Linked DNA regions of Homo sapiens: region 1 is linked to region 2. The links come from fine-mapping of genetic effects on gene expression. A gene starts in region 2. The other region holds a variant in brackets. All regions are shown on one strand. Distances are from middle to middle.

Evidence for each region.
Region 1: its variant is fine-mapped to the expression of ZNF143 in whole blood (INTERVAL, PIP 0.91).

Annotation. Positions count from the first base shown.
Region 1 is chr11:9,498,984-9,501,895 of GRCh38, reverse strand. ZNF143 (zinc finger protein 143) reads right to left here. Exons shown (of 16, transcript NM_003442.6): 11 at 626-805. Among named protein-coding and RNA genes, the nearest start is that of ZNF143, 39 kb to the right of the region's middle. The variant T/C (reference allele first, on the strand shown) is at 1,588.
Region 2 is chr11:9,459,638-9,462,549 of GRCh38, reverse strand. It overlaps ZNF143 (zinc finger protein 143), which reads right to left and starts at 1,538. Exons shown (of 16, transcript NM_003442.6): 1 at 1,474-1,538. ZNF143-AS1 (ZNF143 antisense RNA 1) reads left to right here and starts at 1,852. Exons shown (of 1, transcript NR_036539.1): 1 at 1,852-2,912. RefSeq lists a silencer at 945-1,154 and enhancers at 1,925-2,004, 2,065-2,164, 2,255-2,334, 2,534-2,912.

The DNA.
Region 1 (2,912 bases), 39 kb before region 2:
ACAAGCTTCACAAAGTCCAGTTTAAGAAGTACCTTAACTTTGACAGCACAACACACAAGGCCTCTGGCTACCTCTCAGAACTCACCTTGTACAAATCTTCTACATGTACTTAATGCTCCTGTCATATGGAACCACTGAGTATCATGCTTTTTCATACCTTTGTGCCTTTCCCCATGACATTTCCCCTGCCAGGAATACCCTTCTCTCTTATGTGGCAAACTTCAGGATTGAGTCTGTATGCCAAATATCTCCCAGAAACCCCTCCCAAAATGCTTCTCCCATTCCTGCAGAAGTGACTGCTCCCCTCTCTGCTCCCACAGCATCTTGTCCATATAATGGGAGACACTGCAGCAACTGTATGTCTACTATCTCTTCCCAAGTAGCCTGCCCTTGACAATGTCTTATCTCTCTATGTTTGATGCCTGGCAGGAGATACTCAATAACTGTTTGTTGAATAAATGAATGTATGACTGTTAAGGTGAAACTTTTTCAAGTTGCTTAATCTCTTTCCACCATGCCAAGTGATAGAAAGGAGGGAAGAGATTAGTTGGAAATGGTTTCTGGAAAAGGCAGGAGTTAAACTGAGCCTTGAAAGATAAAAGACCAAAAGATCAGAGATTGTTACCTGTGTGTATCCTCACATGGTTTTTATAATTTGTTGCACTGGCAAATGCCCTCCCACATCCTGGCTCTGTGCAGTAATAAGGTCTTTCTCCTGTGTGTGTCCTAACGTGCACTTTTCTGATATTTGATGTTGTAAAGGACCGACCGCAGCCTTCGAAGGGACACTTAAAGGGCCTTTCTCCTGCAAATATAAAGGGTAATACATTAAATGGTGCAAAAATATATAGAGGATTAAAATGTCTTATCCTTCAATCCTGCCTAGGATTATGCTCAAGACTCTAGCCTTCTTGTGCTGAGCTTCCCTTTCAGGCATTTTTTTGGGGGGGTTGGGGAAACAGCATCTTCCACTCCAAACTTAAATCTACATAAGAAACTGGGAATGGTATTCAAAACTAATCACTGATTACATAGCTCTCCAAGATGGAATCATCCAGGTAGGCAAAAAATGAGCTGAGAAAAGCAGAGAGAAAAACATAAGAAATATAAAAGAAAAGTACAGTCAGGAATATGAATTAAATTAGAACAAACCCAGAATTCCCTAAAAGCTTGTATCCTACTTGATTTATTCTACAATATCTTGCAGGAAAATAATTTTTGCTCTTTAAAAATATGGTGTTTTGACCAGCCTGGCCAACATGGTGAAACCCTTTCTCTATTAAAAATACAAAAAATTAGCTGGGCATGGTGCCGGGCGCCTGTAATCCCAGCTACTCGAGAGGCTGAGGCGGGAGAATCGCTTGAACTCAAGAGGCGGAGGTTGCAGTGAGCCGAGATTACACCGTTGCACTCCAGCCTCGGCGACAGAGCGAGACTCCATCTCAAGAGAAAAAAAAATGGTGTTTTAACTAATGTTCAACAAGATAATGCCTAATATTAACTGTGTCAGGAAATAGTAGGTGTTCAATACATACTTGTGTTACTGAACCAAAAAAAAAAAAAAGAAAATCTAGTGCCTAGCACATA[T/C]GTCAAAAATACCTGCTGGACATACTACTACTACCCTCATAATCTAAGCTTATAAAAAGTCTGGCCAGGCACAGCAGCACATGCCTGTAATCCCAGCACTTTGAGAGGCTAAGGCAGGCGGATCACTTGAGCTCAGGAGTTCAAGACCAGCCTGGGCAACATGGCGAAACCCCGTCTCTACAAAAAAAATTCAAAAAATTAGCTGGGTGTAGTGGTGCACAGTGGTAAGTCCCAGCTACTCGGGAGGGTGAGATGGGGGGATCACATGAGCACAAGAAGTCAAGGCTGTAGTGAGCTGTGACTGTGCCACTGCACACCAGCCTGGGCACTGAAGTGAGACACTGTCTCAAAAACAAAAAAATCTGCTTTACCAATTATGTTTCTTTCCTTCATATTTGCTTTATACAATCTTGGAATACGAAAGGCCTTTAAACTGTCAAGCAAGAAGTAGCCTTTGCTTTTGATTCTCATGTACCCTTTTCTAGGATGAGCTCAAATTAGGCAAACAACTTCTGGGGAAGGGGAAAAAATCTCTCTTTATATAGACAGATACAGATATTTATCTATATATAGTAAGTTTGTTAAATTTTTTAAGAGATGAGTCTCACTATGTTGCTCAGGCTGGAATGCAGTGGCTCTTCACAGGCACGATGGTTGCACACTGCAGCCTCGAACTCCTGCCCTCAAGCAATCCTCACACCTCAGCCTCCCGGGTAGCTGCGACCACAGGCACATGCTACCACGACTGGCTAGTTTGTTGTTTTTCTTTTGGTCAAATGAAATTATGATTTCTCTATTGGTGGAAACCATTCCAAAAGATTTCTCCCCTTAAGTATGAAATCATTTTAAAAGGAGCAGGAATCTTTGATCCTATCTCTAGTAAGTTTTATTCATTATGTCAGCCTAAGGAGAACAAAGAGTTTATCCTGGGCAAGTCTTTTCTCTTGGATCTAGATGACCTCTAAAGTCTTCCCAGCTCTGACATGCTATGATAGGGAATCAACTGTTCTAGGATAATTTTCACTGTATTACTACTCTGATTCTGTAACATCCTGCTTTGTTTTTGCACTGTAATCTTCTGTATTTGTTACAGAAGTCCCTATGTCCCTTACTCAATCCCACACTATACCAATGAAAATATCATGATTTTAAAGCTGTTATATGAACATGTGGTTTGACAAATGAATACTATGAAATAAATCACAATTCTGATGTTTTTTAATCAATATTTATAAAACTAGATTATTGGTTTGATATAGCTTTTATATAACAAGTTGGTTTTATTTCCAAATTCAAGTAGAATTTATGGGAGCTTGGAAATACTC
Region 2 (2,912 bases):
TCTCTGTCACCCAGACGGGAGTACAGTGGCACAATCACGGCTCACTGCAGCCTGGAACTCCTGGGCTCAAGTGATCCTCTCACCTCTGCCTCCAAGTACCTGGGACTACAGGCACACGCTGATTTCACTTAAAAAAAATTTTTTTTGTAGAAACATGGGAGGGCCGTCTCCCTATGCTGCCCAGGCCTAATTACACATTTTAAATGGGTGAACTGTAAGGTATGTGAATTACATCACTAAAGCTATTTTAAAAAATAAAGGCGGGCATCTGTAAAGCAAAAAAAAAAAAGGCACTCAAGTATCTGTAGACAGCTGACTGCTCATAGAATTTCCAAATAGTGGACACTGACAATTAAAAAAAAAAAATTTCCAAACAGTCAAAATACGCCAGGACAAAATTAGCTATGCATCTTATGGGTGTTTTTGAGTGATCTCCTTATCACGTTATTTTCTTACTAAACGTAAACTTGATCTACATACTCAGCAAGAAAAAACATTAAATACTGCACCGTTTTTTGTCAACTACAGGAAAACACAAGTATCTTCTGGTAAGATTCAGGACAAAGCCGACCACAATCTCGAACCTACAATTTCTCCCCACATTCTCACTTGATTATATCAGCTGATTTAGACACTTCCAAAGCAAAGGCTGACGCTGATTTTAAACAAATAATGGGCTGGCAATGGTATTCTTCTTTCCTCTTTTTAACTTCGTTATTATGTGGAAAAAACAAATGTCCAAAGCAAAAGGGGAAGGAATAAAAACTAGTTCGCGTTCCACAATAATACGTTTCAAAGAGACTTATAAGAATTTGTTCACTCTTTTGGCCAAAACTGGAGAAAAGGGAGGATAAAATTGTAAATTTCTAATATCCGATGTTAGACCTCAGTAACCTTTTTTTTTTTTTAATAGAAGAAAGGGTGAGGGGGAAACAATCTGCCCACGATACGCATGGGAAGCAAGCGCTAGGTGAGACCGGCAGGTCCTGGGAGGGCCTGGGCCAGCCCTGTCCCCGGCGCCCCCGCTGCGGCCTGGTGTGGCCCGTGGGCCCGGCGTCCCAGGCGGCGGAACTCTGCCTCGGCGGCGCCTGGGGACTCGCTCTGCGCGGAGGTCAGGCCGAGAAACGCGGCCAAGGCTCCCGAGGGCTCCACCCTCCCCTCTTTCACTCCCTCCCCTTGGCGGTCCCCTGAGGGAAACAGGCGGGGCGCATCGCTCAGAGACAAGCTGGGGGGAGTTGAGTCCTCAACGAAAAAAGCTCCGCCGCCTAGAGTGGCGGCCGCGGGTTATTAATAAACTCCGCTTCTGCCCAGACGCCGCTACCGCGGCCGGCCCATAAAATCGGCAAGGCCTGCGGCGGAGGCTGAGCAGCGGGAGCCGGAGCCCGGGCCCAAGCGGGCCCGCGCCGCCGCGCTGAGGGCGGCGGCCAGGCGGAGAATAATGCACACTGGGTAAAAACACATTTATATACGAACCTCCGAGAAAATTTTCCAACAATTCCTTCGTCCGACCACCATGCACCAGGACAGGAAACAGCCGTCCGGCCCCCAGGCCCCGCAACCCGCATAGTGTGTCTGAGGCCCGCCCCCAGCTTCCATTGGGCTGTCATTACATCACTCACAGGACGCTTCCGGTTTTCCATTGGCCCACGTTTGGTCGACGCGAAAGAAAACCGCCCTAGCCGCGCCCACTCAACTGACGTCAGCCAAGCCTGACTTTACAGCCCGCCCCTGAGTGGCTCGCGCAAAGTGCAGAATCAAAGCTCCTGTGTCTGACTGGTTGACATAACCGCTTATCCCAGACGGACCCCGCCTCACTGACTAGCGAGTCATACCGATTCTGGGGCCCCAGCGGGAGGCGCCATTTTGTAGCGAGGGAGGGAGGCTGGTCCTTGTGATTACCCGGGAGGGAGCCGGGGTGACGAGCGCCATTTTCCCCACAGGGGCGAGGAGGCGGCTTTGGTTCTCCCGGTGGGCTTGCCGGAGTGCGTTCTGCAGACCAGAAGGGCTTTGTCTGGCGATTGCTGAATGCTCAATAGCAGCCTGCTGGGAGGGAAGTCGAAGGGAGAAATAGGACAGAAAGAGAGACCTGACCTCTCCCTGGAGGCTCTCAGTGTCGGCCGAGGCCCTTGGTCTTGCTCTAGGGCTCTGCATTCCCGAGAGCTGCTGTATGCCGGGGATTGGCTTCCAAGCCTGCCTGAGCTTCTCCAGTCTCCCGGGCATCGCCATGCGGTGGGAGGGTGAGCCTTCCTCTCCTGCTGAAATTCCGGCGGCTTGGCAACCGGCCGGGGGGTCTTGGATTCCTCGGGGAGACACCACTGATGCTTTGTGGTTTCACGTAATTTGGATTTAAAAGTTGAAGGCGTCAGAAATGGTTGTCGCTACGGTCTTTTGTATGTTCTTGTGTTGCGAACTAATAAAGGAAAGTCAAAAGGGTGGGAGAAGCATTCAGTCTGGTTCCCTAAAGTTACTAAGAATGGATACAAATTAGTTGTGGCCGTTGCGGTTAATGCTTCTTGTAGCTCTTAACCCAGCCCTTTCTAAACCTTTGGATATACTTACTAGTCAGTTCCGAAGGTACTCAGTACAAATTTGCGTTGGCGCACCAGGCCGACTAAAGATGAGGTGGGTGTATTAGACTCAAAATTTCTTAAGTCGGCCAGGGGGTAGAATTGAGCTACCAAGAGAATGAGAGACTACCCTGTTGTAACAGATTTGGATCGCGCTTAGAAAAACAGGGAGAAAGCTGGATGATGTTCAACTTAATGTCTTGCATTTCAGACGATTATCGAATGGACGGGGATAAATAAAAACGATGTTACAGATAGCCCTCTAAGTGTGGATAGTAAATATTTTGATTTACAATTAAGCCTACCTTGAGGTGCAGGCCCTAACCAACGGATAGTTGAGTAATA